Linked DNA regions of Homo sapiens. The protein of the gene in region 2 purifies or fractionates together with the protein of the main gene of each other region. This does not show direct contact. Each region holds a gene or a part of one and is shown on either strand. Other genes may lie near its edges. The genes, in order: USP19, RORC and GLB1.

Region 1 (3,647 bases), on a different chromosome or scaffold from region 2:
TTGGCTCCCATCTGAAGCAGTTTCATTAGGCTGGGTCTCTGTTACCTGCTTATCACCATCAGGAGCTTGTGAAGACCCTCATGATCTCTTGGCTACTCCCACTCCAGAGTTGTTGCTCGATTGGAGGCAGAGTGCAGAAGAGGTGATTGTCAAGCTTCGTGTGGGAGTAGGTCCCCTGCAGCTGGAGGATGTAGATGCTGCTTTCACAGATACAGACTGTGTGGTGCGGTTTGCAGGTGTGTCCATCTGCCCTGAGCACAGTAGTATGTTTGAATCTTCTGATATCTCCTATCCTACCTCATGGACCCTGCTCTGTCCCCAGGTGGTCAGCAGTGGGGTGGTGTCTTCTATGCTGAGATAAAAAGCTCTTGTGCTAAAGTGCAAACCCGCAAGGGCAGTCTCCTGCACCTGACACTGCCCAAAAAGGTGCCTATGCTCACGTGGCCCTCCCTCCTGGTGAGTTCTAGTAGTACAGGGTTGGGTAGGGATACCAGTGTAGTCGACAGGGCCTGACTGCTGTATCTTTGGCAGAAGAAACCTCTAGGGACCCAGGAGCTGGTGCCGGGGCTGCGGTGCCAGGAGAATGGGCAGGAACTGTCTCCCATTGCCCTGGAGCCAGGCCCTGAGCCCCACCGGGCTAAGCAGGAGGCCCGGAACCAGAAGCGGGCCCAGGGCCGTGGTGAGGTAGGCGCAGGGGCTGGCCCCGGGGCCCAGGCAGGGCCCAGCGCCAAGAGGGCTGTGCATCTCTGCAGAGGGCCAGAGGGGGACGGGTCCAGGGATGACCCTGGACCCCGGGGTGATGCCCCACCCTTCGTGGCTGACCCAGCCACCCAGGTGAGAGCTGGGCACCTGTTTGGGTGTTAGGAGATGGGGGGAAAGGGTGTGCACTGGAGTGGGAGCCACCTGGCAGACCCAGGGCTGATTCTTTCCACAATCTTGCCATTAATAGGTTGAGGCTGATGAACAGCTTTGCATACCACCGCTGAACTCCCAAACCTGCCTCCTGGGCTCAGAGGAGAATTTAGCCCCTTTGGCAGGAGAGAAAGCAGTGCCTCCCGGGAATGACCCAGTCTCTCCAGCCATGGTCCGGAGCAGAAACCCTGGGAAAGATGACTGTGCCAAGGAGGAGATGGCAGTGGCAGCAGATGCTGCAACCTTGGTGGATGGTAAAGGTGGGGGTGGGCAGGCAGAGCCCTAGGTTGGGTTGCAAAGTTTGTAGGTGGATAGAGAGTAGCAATAGGCTGGAACCTGTCCTGGTTGGGGCTGAGCCATGGTCTCAATATAGAGCCCGAGTCGATGGTGAACCTGGCGTTTGTCAAGAATGACTCGTATGAGAAGGGCCCGGATTCAGTGGTGGTGCACGTGTACGTGAAGGAGATCTGCAGGGACACCTCAAGAGTACTTTTCCGTGAGCAGGACTTCACGCTCATCTTCCAGACCAGGTGGGTGGGTAGATGATGGGGCAAACAATGCCTCAGGTGGGACAGTATGTCTCATGCTCTTCCTCTTGTCCTTCCTCCTATCCTGCTGTGCCTCTGCAGGGATGGAAACTTCCTGAGGCTGCACCCGGGCTGTGGGCCCCACACCACCTTCCGTTGGCAGGTGAAGCTCAGGTGGGTGGTGCCCGGCCCCACCACTGTGCCTGTCCTACCCCGTGGGCTCCATCTCCCTGGCTCATCTATCCTGATGCTCATTCCTCCTAAGTCCCTGAGTTCAGCCTTTTCCCACAGGAATCTGATTGAGCCAGAGCAGTGCACCTTCTGTTTCACGGCTTCTCGCATCGACATCTGCCTTCGTAAGAGGCAGAGTCAGCGCTGGGGGGGCCTGGAGGCCCCGGCTGCACGAGGTCTGCACACGAGCTCCCTTCATTGCCCAGTTCCACGTGACCAGGACCCAAACCCCTGTCACATGCTGCTAACCACCAGCCCTCTCATTCCCCCTTTTTAAGGTGCAGTGGGTGGTGCAAAGGTTGCCGTGCCGACAGGTCCAACCCCTCTGGATTCAACCCCACCAGGAGGTGCTCCCCACCCCCTGACAGGCCAGGAGGAGGCCCGGGCTGTGGAGAAGGATAAATCCAAGGCACGATCTGAGGACACAGGGCTAGACAGTGTGGCAACCCGCACACCCATGGAGCATGTAACCCCAAAGCCAGAGACACACCTGGCCTCGGTGAGAATTCTGGGGTGGGAAGGACGAAGAATGGAGGCTGGAGAGTCTTGGGGCTGTTCTCTCATGTCGTCTTTGCTCCTGCAGCCCAAGCCTACATGCATGGTGCCTCCCATGCCCCACAGCCCAGTTAGTGGAGACAGCGTGGAGGAGGAGGAAGAGGAAGAGAAGAAGGTGTGTCTGCCAGGCTTCACTGGCCTTGTCAATTTAGGCAACACCTGCTTCATGAACAGCGTCATTCAGTCTCTGTCCAACACTCGGGAACTCCGGGACTTCTTCCATGGTGAGGGCAGGGCCTGGAGCCTGGGTTATGGGCAGAGAGAGTGCCTTTGTTCCTCACACCTTTGCTCGGCTACTATTCCTAGACCGCTCCTTTGAGGCTGAGATCAACTACAACAACCCACTAGGGACTGGTGGGCGTCTGGCCATTGGCTTTGCCGTGCTGCTTCGGGCGCTGTGGAAGGGCACCCACCATGCCTTCCAGCCTTCCAAGTTGAAGGTGATCTGTGACCACTGTCACCCTTGGCTGGAGGGGGCGGGGAGGGCCAGCCAGCTGGGTGTGCAGTGGGTGCTAGGGCTTCATGTTCACACCTTGGCTCCTGTATCCAGGCCATTGTGGCGAGTAAGGCCAGCCAGTTCACAGGCTATGCACAGCATGATGCCCAGGAGTTCATGGCTTTCCTGCTGGATGGGCTGCACGAGGACCTGAATCGCATTCAGAACAAGCCCTACACAGAGACCGTGGATTCAGATGGGCGGCCCGATGAGGTCAGGGTTAGGGACAGAGGGTGGGCATGTCTCATGAGCATCCCAGCCCCTGGTACTCTTTGGTTCTCACCACTCTGCCTCTCAGGTGGTAGCTGAGGAAGCATGGCAGCGGCACAAGATGAGGAATGACTCTTTCATCGTGGACCTATTTCAGGGGCAGTACAAGTCGAAGCTGGTGTGCCCTGTGTGTGCCAAGGTGTGATGGGCTCCCCTGGAAAGAGACCCCCTAGTTCAGCTCAGCTATTCTGGTCACATTAGGTTCAGAGGCATGTGCATCTTAAGGTGCTACAGGGCAAGGTTTGGGCAAAGAAGCTGGCAGGGAGGCCTTAGGATTCTATTTGGGCTGAAGAGCCCACTCAGGGTAGGCTTCCTGACTGAGGGAAAAGTGATGTTAGAGCTCAAAGGTGTTGTAGCAGGGTTGTGGGCACATGGGGTGCAAGTGTGAGGCCAATTCGTAAAGTGGCTAAGCTGAGTAGGGCTTTGAGTGCCAGAAAGAAGGATTGTTATTTCCTGGTGGTCCTCCTGCCCTGTCTAGTGTCCTGAAGCCTGAGAGTTTGCTGGTTGGCTGTGGGGGCCCTGAGAGCCATCAGAAGCCCCGGAATGGGCTCTCTGAGCATGAGCATCTTATCTCCCACTCTGTGTGCAGCTACCCAGTGCCACCTCTACATCCACAGGTCTCCATCACTTTTGACCCGTTTCTTTATCTGCCGGTG
Region 2 (3,647 bases):
CTTAGAGAAAGGGGTAAGGGCAGGAGGAGGCTGGGACCTCAGAGGAAGAGTTGGGACAGAGGGAATAATATCTCTTGGGATCTTTATACAAACAGGAGTCCTGGCTTTAGTTCTGTGGGTTTCCTCTGTGAATTCTGTTCCTAGACCACCACAATCACCTCACACTTTTACCCCTACAGCCAAATAACCATGTCCTCTACCCAGGTCTCCGGTGTGCATTTGGGCGTCTTATCCTCATAAAGTATATAGCTTAAGGCTTGAGGGCACTGGCTGCAGAATTACAGAGATCTAGGTTCAAATGCCAGATCTGCCACTTCTGGCTGTGTGACCTTAGTCAAGCTGTTTATTCTCTCTAGGCCTCAGTTTTCTCATCTGTAAGATGAGGATGATACTAGCAGGGCCTATTTCACAGGGTGGTTGTGATCATTGAATGAAAATGCATGTAAAGCCTGGCACAGAGTAAGAATTCAGCCAATGCTTATGTCTATCATTATCCTTTCTCCTTAATCAGTATCCACTGGAGAAAAAGGAGAGAGAAAGAGGAGAGGAAAAGGCCCAGCTCTAGATTGACGAGGCACCAGGAGGAGATGAGGACCCCGGGGTTTCTCTGTGTGAACCCATTCTCTACCATGATGGTGGGGGGGTGGTGGTTCTGGGGTTTGAGAGGAGAGATCCCCCTGGGTTGCAGCCCCTCCCCTGCTCCTACCACTTCCTCTCTGTGGCATAGGGCACCTGGACAGGGCCCAGGGTTGGCTTCCTAAGCTGGCACAGGGCCAGGCTCTGGAAGTACTCAAAGCACTATCATTGAATCTCACAGCTGTGAGAGGCTCGATTAGAGGAGGATGGAGGACTTTGCCTCTACCGTATTTCCCCTCATAGGAGGAGCTACTAGGATGCTCCTGGGGGTACTTCAGTCTCTAAAGCAATTCAGAGGAGATTCAGTTTCTTTTTCTAGTATTGTCTCAGAATGAAGTCTTAGAGGTCACACTGGATGGCAGAAAAGATGCAAGAATGAGCTCAGGAAAAGATCGCCAACCCCAGCCCCACTCCCTGGAAGGAGCAGCCTGGCAAAAAGGCAGGAATAGGGACTAAGTTCTTGCTACTCAAAGTATAAGCTGAAGACCAGTAAGCTTAGGCACCAACTAAGAGCTGACCAAAGTGCAGAATCTTGAGTCCCACCTCAGATCCCCAGGTAATCTTGTTTGAGATGCAGAAAGCCATAGTCATTCAGTCATTAGATGACTTAAGGAGCTGGCGGGTGCATTTGGGCATTTGTCTCTCCTTTTGGAAGATGTGGAATTGGAGTTTTCTTTTGGAGAAAGCTCTCTCTCAGGAGAGAGCTACAGTGAGAGAGCTGCAGGTGAGATGCAAAGATCTTTCCAAGACAGCAGGCGAGGGTAGAGTTAGGGCTGCCATGGGAGCAGTGGTGCAGGGGCTGGTTCGAGGTTCCTGACCTTTGCTTGGCTCTAGTTCCTGGCACTGGCAGGCCCTTAGATGGTAAGTTCCTGGCAGGCCTGGCTCCAGGGCAACAGTTTGAGTAATCCTGTGATTACTCAGCTCCTTCTCCCCAATCTGAGTTCCCACCACCTGCTGCTTCAGGGACGTGTCTCCCAGGGGTAGCTTTTGAAGGTGAGTTATCATCAGAGGTGTTTTCAGCTCCTCTCACCAACCCCCAAGTCTACCAGCCCCCTTCCCGTTCTCCCCCACCCCTTCTCTACAAGTAACACACACCCTCATGTACACAGCACTGGTACTTTCTTTCTGAGGTTTGGGTGGATGGCATTGAAGGGAGTGCAGGTGGCAGGGGAAGGAGGGGGGAGCAGGACTAGAGGGCCTGAAGTGCTGAGGGGGCCATGGGTTGGGCAAAGGCCAGGATACAAGCGTGGATTTTCTGTGTTTCAGTGTTTCCGCAGCCGTCTCTCCATCCCTAGATCTATGTCTCTGTTTTTCCTGGACCCAAACCTCTTGGTCTCTCCAGCTCAGTGAGGCTAGGGGGTCTGACATTCTAGCTCAGAGTCTTTGGCCTTGTGTGTCTGTCTCACTGGGTACTTCTGTCTTGGACTGGGAGGATGGAGGATGGGCTGACCAGGTGGCTGGAGTCCAAGGCTTTGGTGTCGCCCAAACATGGGTATTTGCGAAGGGGGTCCTTGACTGGCCGCATCTTCCTATGAGAAGGTCAAGGTCTTGGTGACACTGTTGTGAGGTTCCTAGGGCCAGGAGAAGCAGTGGGTCAAGCATGGGGCAGGGAGATGTGTCTGGGGTCACCATGTGGTCAGCACACACACGCACGCGGATGTGGCTCTTGGAGAAGGGAAGAGGCAGGGAGGCCTGTGGTTGACTGCTGGGCCAGAGCCCGAGTTCCCACTGCGGCTTGGCCTAATCTCCCTCCCGCTTACTTTTTTGGGTGGCCCACGTTGGTTTCTCCCATCTCTGGTCTTAGGCCACTGAAAAGAGAGATGCCACAGTGTTGGAGGGGGAGGTGTTGGGCAAGAACAGAGTCCACAGGGCCCGAGTGCTCCTCTCAGCCTTGCCAGGCCCACTGGTCTTCTCAGCCTGACCTCTGCTCAGGAGTAACTTGAATACACAGTGCTTTCCATTGGTGATATCATTTCATTACTCTCTGTTACCTACAATCACCCCATGGACAGGCAATAATACTTTTATCCTGATCTTGCTGACAAGAAAACGTAGGTCTAGAGGGAGAATCTAAGTGACTAGAAGTATGGGGGCCCCAACGTTTTCTGCCCCTGTTCCAGACACCCAGTGCCCTCTTATTCTCTCTTCCCCTCCATGTATTAAAATCTGCTCTTAATTTACTGGAAAGAACCTGGAAAACTCACTTACCGCCTGGTCCTGGGGGGACCACAGCTTACAGTGTGAGCACTGGAAGCTTGCTGCTGGGCAGGCACGTGTGGCTGGGGGTTGGGTGAGGAATTGAGTGCTAATGAAGGGATTTCAGATACCCATGTGCCCTGTCCCCGTCAGGGTCAGCTACTGCCTCTGACTCACCTCAAGTCTGGCCTGAGGGATGATGGTTTAAGAATGATGGAAATAATATTTTGGGGAATGGCGGGCAAGCCATGGTCTCCCTGCCCACTTCACATCAACAGGCCCTACATGTGACCAGTGTCCAGGCCAGGGACTGGAGGTGAGATCACAGCAATGTGCATTCGCCCTCCAGAGAGGCTGCCACTTCTTTTGCCCCTTTGGTGGGAGACACGTCATAGATTAAAAGGGGCTTTGGCCCTTCTCTTCACTTTTCTGGCCTGTCCCGCCCCAGGGCTCCCCACTCAGAGGGGAGGCAGCAGGTCAGTGATGGTGGAAAAGAGACCCATGTGCTCTGGGAAATGCTAAAAACACCTACAGTAACCAGGGATCCCAAGCTTTGCCCAGCTACCTTTCAAGGAAGAGCTGGGAGAAGGCCTCCTGTGGTCCCATGAAGCTCAGCAGAGAGTCGTGGGCATTGACAGGAACAGGGCAAAGCAGAGATGAGCTTAGGGCCAGCAGCAAACCACAGGGGTAGGGAAGCAGGTACAGGTTACAGTGAGTTCAGTGGGAGAGAGAACCCGGGGTCCTAGTGCCCCATGAGCAGACACTAACATACAAATATGCACGTGTGGACGCAGGAGCAACCAGATATGTCGTAG
Region 3 (3,647 bases), on a different chromosome or scaffold from region 2:
CTGCACGATAACCTCCCCAGAGCAATGGCTGCTGCTTCTCTCCACCCTCCCAATCTCAAGCAAGGGCCTCTTCTGACCAACGCTAACCCAGAACCATCCAGGGAAGGGGATCCAGGGAAAACAATTCCCAGCTTACCTACCAGGTGCACAGTCCACCCGGCATGTGAGGGCCCATCTCTTGGATGCTTATGAAATGGAACTTGAGGTTTGAGAAAGGACCAAACCTCCACTTTGTTCACCTGCGATTTGGTCAAGAGTTGGCTTGGCCTGTGTCCTGACCATAGCATGAAGCCTGTGTGGTGCGTGCCATTCCTTGGCTGCTGCTCGTAATGCCCTCCCACTTCTCTGTCTTCCCCCTTGACCGCAAAAGTAAAGTGCTACTGTTCTCTAATACTGCAAAAACAAGGCACCGGCAGATTTTAAGCTGATAAAAACCTGCTAAAGCTGTCATTGTATATACCTTTTAGGATGGAATGAGATAACATATCCCAGGGTAAAAACAAGAGTGAAATAGTTCTGAGAACTGTGAAACTGTCGTCCTCTTTCTAAATGACTTAATCCAACAGACAGGTGGTTTTTAATCACGGACCCCCTTCTTTTGTAGGCATTGGAACACCAACATCTTTTCACTTTAATCATGTAAGGAGTGCTACCGCTTACAGGCCACACACTGTTCCTTCATCATCATTGTCCCCAATGACTGGTATGAAAAATTGAGTTGAGACCTGCCCAAGGTCAGACAGCTAGTAAGTGGCAGGACACAGATACGAACTCAGGTAGGAAATTCAGAAGGATCTAAAGTAAAGGGGACACTTGGAGGCTGAAAAATACCCAAACGTAAGAAGACTGAGGAGCCCTGGGGTGAGCAGCAGAGTTGTGTTGCAGAACGTGATGAGGATTAGGGCTCAGCAGGTGTCAGCCATGGCTGGGCCTCCTCCAGGCTGTCTCCTAGGATATCTGGGCCATTGTAGGTCACAGTTTCTTTCCTGCCTCCCTCCCTTCTTCCATTCCTCTTTCCTCTTCCTTCTCCCTTTATGTTTTCCTTTCTTCTCCCAGATTTTCTCTTTCTTTTGCGTGTATGTGATCTCCCCATCTTCACTTTCTTTCTTTGTAATAGAATGGTCCATCTATTCAGCCAGCTGTTGATCCTAGCCTTTGAGCTTTGAGCAAATCTTTTTTTTTTTTTTTTGAGACGGAGTCTTGCTCTGTCACTGCGCAAGGCTAGAGTGCAGTGGCGCAATCTCAGCTCACTGCAACCTCTGCCTCCCTGGGTTCAAGTGATTCTCTTGCCTCAGCCTCCTGAGTAACTGGGATTACAGGCATGTGCCACCACACCTGGCTAATTTTTGTATTTTTAGTAGAGACGGGGTTTCACCATGTTGGCCAGGCTGGTCTCGAACTCCTGACCTCAGGTGATCTGCCTGCCTTGGCCTCCCAAAGTTCTGGGATTACAGGCATGAGCCACTGCACTCAGCCCCTTTGAGCAAATTTTAGCACATACAGAGAGGCTGTGTAGACAGACCTAAACATGGTCCCTGTTTTTTAGGAGTTTATCCTCCACTTTCAGTTTTGTTATGGGAAGCAGCTTCCCCTACTCACAGAAATTGTTTATGCAACCTATAGCATCACCTCTGCTCCTGAACCAAACATGGAGTCCACACCCTAACTCTGAGGGTGCCTGTAAGAGTCCTTAGAACATAGCAGTAATATAGACACCCAACTGGATAAGCCTCTTCCTCTCCCTCACCCCAAACCCCCCTATCCCTCTTGAGGGGTTGTTTTGGGGACCACTCCTGGTACCTGTCTGACCTCAGGATGCAGGCCCTGGAGTCCTCTGTTCCCTGTGTTCACCAGGTGTACAGCAGATAGTGAGGTCAAGACCTGCCTCTGGGAAAGGAGAACAAAGAAGGAAAAGATCTATTTAAGGAAGCAGTTCAGCAGTTGTCTTCTGTGTACAGAAAAGTCAGGGAGAGGCTGGTCTGTGGGTACAGGCAGCACCTGGGAACCAGGATGAAATTCAGAAATTTCCACACTGTTCTCTGGTACCAACATCTGTGGCCACTGAAGCCCGTCAGAGGGACCAAACCTGTATTTTCCTGAAGCAGGAGTGGGTCTTTGGGGCAAGTTTTTGTTGCCCCAAAGAAGGTGGATGGGGGCATCCACCTTCTTCCCACCTTGGCCAGTTATCCCAGCAAGAAGCTAAAACCAAGGCTGGCATGGGCCTGGCTGTCAGCCTCGCCTTTCTGGGGGCATTTCTTTCCTCCATTGCTGCTGGCCTGCCCTACATCAGGGCCCCCACCTTCCTCAGGGCTTTCGGTGCATCTGGGGTTGATGGTTCTCTGTCTCTCTCTCTCCAGGGCCAGGTCTGGATTAATGGCTTTAACCTTGGCCGCTATTGGCCAGCCCGGGGCCCTCAGTTGACCTTGTTTGTGCCCCAGCACATCCTGATGACCTCGGCCCCAAACACCATCACCGTGCTGGAACTGGAGTGGGCACCCTGCAGCAGTGATGATCCAGAACTATGTGCTGTGACGTTCGTGGACAGGCCAGTTATTGGCTCATCTGTGACCTACGATCATCCCTCCAAACCTGTTGAAAAAAGACTCATGCCCCCACCCCCGCAAAAAAACAAAGATTCATGGCTGGACCATGTATGATGATGAAAGCCTGTGTCTTTGAGGGATTCTACCCTGAACATACCTCACAGATCCTCCCTGTCATGCCACATTTCACTGATTGGAATGTGGAAATGGAAAAGGAATTTAGGATGTGCATTTTCACCTGAGGTTTCCCTGCATCCCTGCAGTGCCAAAGCCCCACCTTCAGGGACCACCTGGAATGTGTGAGGGGCTGACAGCACAGTAACGTGCATACATATCTGCAGGGCTGGAATGGAAGCTTTAAAGGTGGTAGTGATTTTTATTTTGGAAGAATCATGTTACCTTTTTGTTAAATAAAATTTGTACTCAAATGATGATGTCACTGTTTTTAATGTGCAGGTATTGAATTATATGGTCTGACTTAAATCATAACTAGACTTGAGTGGGCTGAATAAACCACTTCACTAACTTGAAGTTCAAAAGGATGGAAAATAGTCTTGGTTTGATCTGTGGACTGCTGCTTTTCTGATCGTTATTTGACTTGCTTTTGGACTAGATAACCTATAAATACAGCTCAAAACAATTATGCAAACAATCTAAATGATTAACAGTTGCACAGTGTACATAGTATGGTATATCTATATAGAAGCATAGTATTTTAGCCACTAAAATGGTGAGAGATCTATACTTATATGCAAATTTTTTGATACATGAAAAAACAGATTACCTTAAATTGGATCCCGTTTTGTGTGTTTCAACATAAGAACTTCACATATTCACACAGTACAGGCCTATACACATGTCAGTAGTCAGGCATGCACGTGTGTGTGTGCTGTGTATGTGCACAGATAGGAAAGGATGTGGTGTTTCTGATATTCCTGTCCTGACATGGAGCAGTAGCTCTCATTTGTTGAGGACTTGTTCTACACCATGCACAGTTCTGAGTTTATGTTTAACTCACTTGCCCCTCACAAGAACACTGAGGAATATACTGTCATCCTGCCGGTTTACCAGATCTCACAGATGTATGTGGCGAGACAGGGTTTG

What was found.
Region 1: the proteins of RORC (region 2) and USP19 purify together in Homo sapiens (affinity purification with western blotting, with the first as the bait; one study listed by BioGRID). This does not show direct contact.
Region 3: the proteins of RORC (region 2) and GLB1 purify together in Homo sapiens (affinity purification with mass spectrometry; 2 studies listed by BioGRID and IntAct, with this or other methods). This does not show direct contact.

The regions. Positions count from the first base shown.
Region 1 is NC_000003.12:49,114,246-49,117,892, reverse strand, and holds part of USP19 (ubiquitin carboxyl-terminal hydrolase 19), read left to right. Parts: intron 1-62; coding exon 63-236; intron 237-322; coding exon 323-456; intron 457-531; coding exon 532-834; intron 835-949; coding exon 950-1,166; coding exon of another isoform or gene 1,167-1,172; intron 1,173-1,285; coding exon 1,286-1,442; intron 1,443-1,541; coding exon 1,542-1,613; intron 1,614-1,730; coding exon 1,731-1,846; intron 1,847-1,948; coding exon 1,949-2,169; intron 2,170-2,253; coding exon 2,254-2,449; intron 2,450-2,531; coding exon 2,532-2,665; intron 2,666-2,775; coding exon 2,776-2,934; intron 2,935-3,019; coding exon 3,020-3,130; intron 3,131-3,608; coding exon 3,609-3,647. UniProt on the Homo sapiens protein: Deubiquitinating enzyme that regulates the degradation of various proteins by removing ubiquitin moieties, thereby preventing their proteasomal degradation. Stabilizes RNF123, which promotes CDKN1B degradation and contributes to cell proliferation.
Region 2 is NC_000001.11:151,818,303-151,821,949, reverse strand, and holds part of RORC (nuclear receptor ROR-gamma), read left to right. Parts: intron 1-3,647. UniProt on the Homo sapiens protein: Nuclear receptor that binds DNA as a monomer to ROR response elements (RORE) containing a single core motif half-site 5'-AGGTCA-3' preceded by a short A-T-rich sequence.
Region 3 is NC_000003.12:32,996,055-32,999,701, reverse strand, and holds the end of GLB1 (beta-galactosidase isoform a preproprotein), read left to right. Parts: intron 1-2,357; coding exon 2,358-2,657; 3' UTR 2,658-3,085; downstream 3,086-3,647.